Regions from separate parts of the Homo sapiens genome. Here region 2 is linked to region 1. Evidence: fine-mapped expression QTL. Tissue or cell type: tibial nerve. Region 1 holds a variant in brackets; the other region holds the start of a gene. All regions are shown on one strand. Distances are between the middles of the regions.

Region 1 (4,408 bases):
CCATAATGGAAATTAAAACAGCAACATAATTCTCTCTCCATGAGACTGGGGCAAGCAAAACATAGTAATATTAAGTCGTGGTGAGGAGAATTAAAACAGAAGCTTTATATACTGGTAATGCAAATATAAATTAGGAGAGACTCTTGTAACGTAAATTGGCAGTAGTTTGCTCTTGGGAATTTCATTTTTATAAATAAAAAATATTCGTAGATGAATAAATGTATCCATGTGTGAGTTAAATATGGACAAACATATACAGAATATCCACTGCAACATTATTTTTTATAGTAAAAAACATTGAAACAACCTAAATATTTACCAACAAGGAATCAGTAAATACATCATCTTCTATGCCAGAAAATACTGCGCAGATTTTTTTTTGAAAACACTGAATATTTCATGTGTTGTTACATTGTGAATACTAAACATTAACATAGTGAGAAAAATATCTAATAAATTTTAAAAAGTTTTTCATTTATATTTTCCATTTCTCCTTCCACTCATATATCGATTTTGCCCTTATGCAAACTACATATCTGTAAAAATATCTAGGTCTTTTTTAAACTTTTTATTAGCATATAAGCTTTTTTATAAATATAATTGCCAAATATTCATATTTTTTTTCCAAAAAATCGAGATAGTGCTATCAAATATCCAAAACATAGGAATGGAAAAAAGCAACTCACAGAAAAAATGCTTATTAGATAATTCTATTTGTTTAAAATAAACACAATTGACATAGATATATATGTATATATGCGTAAATGTACAGAAAGTAAAATTGAAAAACAGCACCCTGAAATCTTAATAGTGCTTTACTTTGTAGAGGATAATGAGAAAGCAGTAGGAATGGAGGACTCTTTTCCATTTCACAATACATTTCTATATGCTATTCATCTTTTACAATAAAAATGCACTTATGTGACTTCTACAACTAAAGGCATTCAGTTATACAAATTAAACAAGAGGAGAAAACTTTTAAAAAACAAAAACTCATTTTTTTCACTGTCAGTCTTAACATTCATTTTATTTGTCATAATTTGAGGTTTTAATAGTTCTTCATATGTTGACTACTTATTAGTAAATAAACAACTTACTATCCAATTTTAAAGATTTTCTATTTAAGTTAGTACAATAATTCAATATAAAATAAAAAAGTATTAACAATAAAATAAAGATTGCACCCCACAAATCTGGATGATGTTGAAGCCATGGTCCTCATTTTCTTCTTCTAGATATTCACTCTGCTATTACATAGAGTCAGGCCAGATTAACATATGATTTGGGAAATGTATGCTCTTTTTCCCACATTCTGGAATTGGAATTTGTGGTGACATATTTTGAACAATTAATGCTCCTAGAAGATCCTGTTACAAACTTAGAACAAAATAATAAATGGGTTATTACATCTGTGTGTGTCTAAAGTTTATTTAGGAAATCAGAATCTTACCAAGAAAAAGGCCTCAAATCAGCGCTTCATGACCACTAAAGTATAACAACCTCCCACTCTACATTCACTTTGTATGAATACACTTAAGGCAGCTTCTAATAAAGGATGCATATGTTCTGTGTTATTTTGGAACATATACTGTCTGTTAGGTTGAAAGAGCTTGTCCATGAATCAATAATAACTTGGAATCTGGACATCTCTTTGGAGATTAATGGATAGCTAAGTAGAGCTATTCACACCAGAGACCACTAACCCCCATTGGTCCCTGTCCAGTTTGTAG[C/A]AGCTGCAGAAAAGGAACACTACGAAACACAGAATTACTTTTTTGGACGTTATTCCAATGATCCTCAGCAAGTGTCTTTTGCAAAAAATCAAAATGGATTAATTTTTTAGGCCAGGTTCACTATATTCTATTCAATTCAGAAAATCCATAAGTCTAAATCCGGATAGCTGCTATTGAAATGTTCATACACTACTCAGGTCTATTCAGGGAACTGGGATAGTTCTGATGCAACAGTGCTTTAATAAGATACAGATTCTTCCATAAGGGTCAGTGATAACTCCAATGTTCAGCTGACAAAAATAAGTCAGGCCTAATTTACCACATGAGTCTTGTCGGCGCTCCTTAGAGTTTATCCTGCCAAATCAATGACTATTCCTGTGGCATAAACCAGATCATTTTCTTTTTAAGGTCTTAGTCATTATTTATTAACTCATCTAGTAAAGTACTCACCTTGAAATAATATAGACTTTAGATGCAAACCATTTACATTTATTTTTTCCCCAAAAAGGGACTTGTGATGAAGTGAACAGTATGGCTTCATGGCTTTTACTACTATGACAAACTAGACAGTTTTGTTTGGACAAATAAGAATGCCAATTTTGTTTGGAAAATCAAACGAGAATGCTGTCTAAAGGTTCTAACCAAGGAGACAATCCATCCGTAAATGACTGTCAAGGTGAGCTAGCCCTAGACCAAACAAGGAAGAGGTTAACAGCTCTAAATCCCCTCTCCTGTTTAAATTCTTATTACCCTTAGGGTATCTAAATCAATGCAACCATGTGTTGTACTGAGATATAATTCCTTGAGATAACTGAGATAAAACAACCGAGATAACTCATTGATATAGCAGAGTATTTACCCTAATGCTCCATGCAGAGAACACAGGCGTTAGCAGCTGCTGTACCTAAGCTTCAAATGGTTTTTCCCCAGTTTATTAGCTGTATGAGGGTGCCTAAATTATGCACCCTGCCTAAAACTTCAGTTTTCCTTTATGCAAAATAGGAATAACAACAGTATCTACTCTACTAGGTGGTTGGGGAGATCAAGTGAGATCACGGACTCCTGCCTTTACCTCTGCTTTATGACAACTTCTCTCCTTGTCTTTCAATTTATTTATTTTCTGCCTTTCCCACTTTTTCCCCCCATATTTTCCCCTATTTTTCTTTTTTAAAAAAAATCCAGGAACTTGCGTCCTGAGAGATATTTTTCTTCTTTTGCTTTGATTCACTGTTTTTAGATATTCTAAATTGGCAAATTTATCCCAATTGGAGGGATAATCAGTGAGAAATAAACAACATAGTAACAGAATATTTTGAAATTTATGAAGGTTTTGTTTTAATGTCTCCAAGAATTTACTAATGACAGTAAAATAAGCAGATTTTGTTCTTATATAAGAATGAAATACATGTGTTCATCTCATTACTATGACTACATTCAATATTTGAGTGAGAATACAATTGTTAAAGTTATTTATGAGATATAATTTACATACAGCAAAAAATTACCCTTATAAGTGGGTAATTATATGAATCTTGACAAACACTTACAGTCAGATAACCACCAATACAATCAAGGTATAAATAATTTCCAACTCTGTTCACCCTTGCCCCTACAACCCAGGCATTTAGCAATCAGCAATTGTTTTCTGTCCCTGTAGTTTTGTGTTTTCCAGAATACCATAATAATAGAATGATATAGCATGTAGACTTCTGAGTTGGTTTCTTGCCCTTAGTGAAAACCATATGAGATTCAGCCATGTTGTTGCCTGTATTCGTATTTTGTTCTTCTTACTGTTGAATACATAAATTGCATGGATGTACCCCAGTCTGTCTATCCACTAAGCAATTGATGGGAATTTGGGTGGTTTCTAAAATTTATCAATTATAAATAAAACCACTCTAAACGTTAGGTACAGGTTTTGATTTCTGGTATGGATGTAGAGAAAAGGACTTACGTTTTCACTTGTCTTTGCTAATATGTAGGAGTAGCATTGCTTGGTAGTATGTTAGACTTTATCAGAACCTGTCAAATGGTTTAATGGTTTTCCCAAAACAACTTTATCATTTCTCATTCACACCAGCAATGCATGAGATTTTTAGTTGCTTGCTCTACATACTTGCCAGTACTTGATATTGTCATTTTTTTAAAAAATTAGCCATTCTAATAAAGGTGTTGTGGTAGCTCATTGTGACTTTAATTTATGTTTACTAATGACTAATGATGTTGAGCATCTTTTGCCTTCCATATATCTTCTGTAGGGAACTGTCTGCTAAAATATTTTGATCTTTTTTACATTGTGTTCATTAACTTATCATTGAATTGTAAGGGTGTTTGTGTATTTAGGATAGGCATGTATTATTCAATATCAATTTGCAAACATTTTCTTCTATCTCTTGAGTTTTCCTTTTATTTCTCAAATGCACCTTTGAAGCCCAGTGCTAAAAAAATCAATTTTTAAGAAGGTAAAAACTTACTTAAATTACTACTTCACATTATTTTTCCCTTTATAAATGTCAATGAAATATTATGGTCATATGTTTTTCAAAGCTTTTAGCTCATTACACTTTTCTTATCTACTTTCCAAAAGAGAAGACTATGCATAGTTAACAGTTCAAGCGCTCTTTTGAATTTCTTTGCCACATAGCTTATTCTCTAGGGAAGAAACACTTACATAAACA
Region 2 (4,408 bases), 44 kb after region 1:
TATATATACACCATACACACATGCACACACACACCCCAAATTTATTGTCTGGATGTAGAAGCTCACTACCCAATTAACACTTTTTTTCCCTTACAAGCTGAAACTAGCAGTAATTTATGGCACCGCATTGTGCTGCTGCTTCTCCATGGGGGGAGCTGAGAGCATTTCTCTTCAGTACAGAGCAATCCCCACAGGTGTCAGCTGAGAGCCACCAAGCTAGGGTATCCCACTTCAAGTTCCTCCCAGATGAAATTGATGACTGGTTCTCTCTCTTTCAACACACACACACACACACACACACACACACACACACAGTGTGGGTGTGCGCACATACACACTGCCCACTAGCAAAAGGAAATAAAAATCTCAGTTGCTTATTTATTATGGCTGATACATTCCACACCATCAGCAATCACCAGTCATATCTTGTCTTCTCCTATATCAAACCCGAGGAAAGAGGCTCGTCAAATCATCTGAAATAGCATATTATTCAGTATACTTTCATATTTTAAGTGGACTCAGGAATCTGCTAAATTTTCAGTCATTTGCAAAATAAATCTGGAATATCATGATCAAGAGTAGTGCTTTGAACCCTTTCTCAAGCTCATGTGTTAGAAAACCTTTTTTTTTTTCTTGTGTGTGTAACTCTGTTGGAGCCAATTATTGTATTAATTAATGTTACATTGATCACATAACCTTTTTTCTCCCGTCCCTCCTGCCCTCCTCCACTAATGCACACCTTGACAATTTTAAGGGATGGTGGAAGAGAGAAAAACCGTAGAGCAATATATATGTACATATAGATATATATACATTCTTATCACAGGGAGGTTAACTGGTTTTCCCAGTTCTTGGAGGAAGCTCATTGTATGTGAGCGAGTATCTGTATTTATATGGAGAAAAGAGGATTCTCTCTAGGTGCCAGAAAGACCTGGCCAGTTCACAAATTAGAGGATGAAATAAAGGGATCTGAAAAACATCCTTACTGCAGCCAAAAGAAGAAGCGCTCTAATTCAAAAGCAGACTAACAGCATCATTAATCTTTTCTTTCATTTCTAGAATCAAATTCATCCCAAGTCACTAGGAGGATCAATACAGTACGCTCATCGGCTGCAGTTGCATATTTTAATGTTTCTGATATCACACACACATACACACCTACACCTTTCCATGCACCCTTCAATATATATATATATCTTCATAAAGAACATGAAATCTCTGAGAGAAATTTTAGAAGTGCTTATTATTTCACCCCTGGCTTTTGCAAAGTCTCTCAATACCAATGCACAGCCAAAATTCTCTCTGGCTTTCCCGCCCAGTCTCTAAGCTCCATCTCTAATACCAGTGCAGTTTCTTGGAGCTCGGGGTCTACTGCACAAATTAACGATGGGCACAGTGTGGGGCTGATGAGGTAGGGAAGGAAATATATGGAGAGATATTTTATTGCTTTGATATCTAGCCTGTCTCTTATTTTCTTTCTTTTGCTAATACATCACTGCATTCAGCCTTTAAGTTACTACCCCAGTTCCACCATCTCTTCTTGCCATCTATTTAAAAGGCTTCATGCAAAACAACCAAGATCTACACTCCTCCACCCTCCCACCACCCATCTTTCCCTGTGTATTTGTGGCAGATCCTGGCTCAGTTACAATGGGGAAAGATATCCTTCTTCAGCTTGCCTCGCCCCATCCCCTCCCCCCAACCCAAATTGAGCTTCTTTACCTGCCCGGTTATTCCCCTCAGCTCGAGCCAGAGCCTGAAGCATGCATCGGTCAAAGCGAATTTCCTGAGGTCTATGGATAAGGCGACTGCTGCTGCCTTTTCAGAGGCGTCAGGCTTGAGCGTCTATCTCCAGGAGTGCGGGAGGGGAGAACAGGCAACGGAGGGGAGCAGGAGGAGGAGGAGGAGGAGAAGGAGGAGGAGGGGGAGGAGAGGGAAAGAGCTGGGAAGGAAAAGGCGGTGGTGGAGCCTGAGAAGGCTGGGTTACGTGACGCCGGGTGCTGTCCTTCTGAAAGAGAAGGGCGGAGCTGAGCTCTCCGCAGTACCATGGAGAGCGGCGGGCCCGTCCTTTGGCTGGGGAATGGGTGGGCTCGGCCCGTGGTCGCAGCCCCTCCAGGTCTGGATGCTGCGGAGCGAGGTGCTTTTACCTTTGCATCGTCCCCTTGCAGGGGGAGCCTGATCCTGGGGGCGGGGACCTTCCGCAAGCGCTTCTAACTTGTCACCACCCTCTCTTCCCCATCGGAAAGAAAGAAAGAGAGAGAGAGAGAGAGAGAGAGAGAGAGAGAGAGAGAGAGAACGAACGAACACGAACCAGAGAACCACGTAGCCTACTGAGCATGCCCAGGCCCCTGCTAGACCCATGGAAAGCTGTATGGAGATTCCACTTCTCCGGGGTTTGGTAGTGATTGGGCGGGGATACCTGAGAGGGTGCCAGGAAAGGGTCCAGCAGTCAAAGAGAAGGGGCCAAGGAGTCGATAATTATGATGAGCTCTGGCTTTACTTGTGCACCTTGGTCTCCTGCTCGGAACCCTTGAAAAGAAGCTGCAGCTTTTCGAGGAATGCAGGGGCAAGCAAGACTCACACAGGCACTGGCATTCTTCTAGATCCGATGTCCCTTGCCCCACCCCTTACTGTGGCTCTGCCTTGGGTAATCACAACAAATCTTCATGACTTGCCTAGGCTGTGCCAAAAAGATGTAAAAGGAACCCACCAGGGTAAGATGCCAACTTGCAGACGACGATCAACTGTGTCTGACAAGGTGCTTTTTACTGCAGCCTGTCGTCATTCTCCAGCCTTCTGTGCTCTGTCTTGAACCAAGTTTTCTACCTGTTTAACTCTTCCCTCCGTCTCCTCCTCCCTTTTGCAGCTGGTAAAACCTGGTGAAAGTAAAACTGGGTGTGAGGCTCTAACCATGCAACTGGGCATGCCCAATAGGCATTGCTGGGTTTGGTGAGAAAGGGGTTAAATCTAAGGGAGCTTACAGATTAGGTGGTAGAGGAGTTCGGGGTCTGTGGCTTTAAATTATGGTTTGCACCCTATGGACATTTAAATTCCTATTCCTGTATATTCCTAGCCTGGGTTAGTTTTGGAGCAGATACAGACATTTTTATTGCAACGCCACAGACCTAATAGTCTGAACCTCAAATACTGTAAGGCAAGACTATTTTTGGCCTCCAGGCCCTATAGAGCAAGAATTTAAGAACTAGATAAATTTGGGAACATCAAAATAATATATATTACAATTACAATATGTATATTCTTCCAAAAAACTAGAACTCATTCCTATGATAAGCCGATTTATACTTTCACTACTTTTGTAAAAGGGTCTAAATAACCTGAAGGCGGGTATCACAGGTTTTAATATGTTTATCGCCCTTAGAGAGGCAGTTTTGTCAAGTGGTTACATGTTTGGGAAATAGATTGTCTGAGCTTCAATTCAATCTCTGCCATTTATTAGTTGTAACCTCAGCAAGATACTTAATCTTATGCTGCCTCAGTCACCTCATCTGTAAAATGGATATAATAATAGCTCCCTCTTCATGTGTTTGATGTTGTGAAGATGAAATGAATAAATAAACATAACATATTTGGAATTGTGGATTCCAAATTGTGGAATTTTGGCTATATTTATCAACTACAACCCACTCTGTGTTCTGTTTGACTCAATGGAAGGAATTTCTCTGAAACTCGAATTCTTTGACTATAAAATAGAGGTATTAGTCATTGTCAGCTTATTCCATAAGATTGCTTTGGGAATGTAATGAAATAATAGCTGTTAACATGATTCTTAAAACAAAAATTTAATTTTAAATGATGTAAAACTAAGACTCAGAAAATTACTTATCTAAATTATTCATTCAGTGAACTTGAAACAAAAAAACAGTCTAGTTAATTCAGGGCCTTTTTCAATTTTTCCTACCATTAGGTTATAGGACAAATAGTACAGAAGGTACACCGCGATGTGTTTAGTATAGAGCTAAAGCTTATTGCAAAAGTAAGTGGAATGGACAGCCCACTTTCAAAAATCAAGTCTAACTTGGTTCCATGATGCTCTTAAGATCTGGTGTGAACATGCATCAGTGAACATTATGGTAGTGCTAGAGGCACTCTTAAGAGTCAAAGCACTGCCTTTTACCTGGATTCATAAAAACTCATTATTTACCACCAGTGCATGTGATCTGAACAATTTCCTACTTTATTTCATTTCGTCTTTGTGAATTTTTATTTTATCTTTAATTGGGCTACACAGTGTTTCCACTGAATCAAGGTTTTCCTTGAGATGTCTTCTGTGGTGTTTTGATTTAAAAAAAATGTTGACATTCTTATGCTGCATGTGTGAATTTTCAGATTAAAAAGACCAGTGTTCCCACATCTCTTCACCACTGCCTCCCTGACACACACACACAAA

Which allele goes with the higher level. Positions count from the first base shown, and alleles are read on the strand shown. Sizes are in standard deviations (SD) of each study's normalised expression.
As copies of A replace C in region 1, the expression in tibial nerve of the gene that starts at base 1,874 in region 2 goes down (small effect, 0.13 SD a copy in GTEx).

What was found. PIP is the estimated chance that this variant, and not a neighbour inherited with it, causes the effect.
Region 2: it holds the start of NRXN1, and the variant in region 1 is the best candidate, but not a certain one, in a credible set for the expression of NRXN1 in tibial nerve (GTEx, PIP 0.71).

The regions. Positions count from the first base shown.
Region 1 is chr2:50,986,125-50,990,532 of GRCh38, forward strand. The region is part of intron 2 of NRXN1 (neurexin 1); the gene reads right to left. Among named protein-coding and RNA genes, the nearest start is that of NRXN1, 44 kb to the right of the region's middle. The variant C/A (reference allele first, on the strand shown) is at 1,731.
Region 2 is chr2:51,030,259-51,034,666 of GRCh38, forward strand. It overlaps NRXN1 (neurexin 1), which reads right to left and starts at 1,874. Exons shown (of 23, transcript NM_001330078.2): 1 at 1,723-1,874. It overlaps NRXN1-DT (NRXN1 divergent transcript), which reads left to right and starts at 2,343. Exons shown (of 11, transcript NR_135237.1): 1 at 2,343-2,758.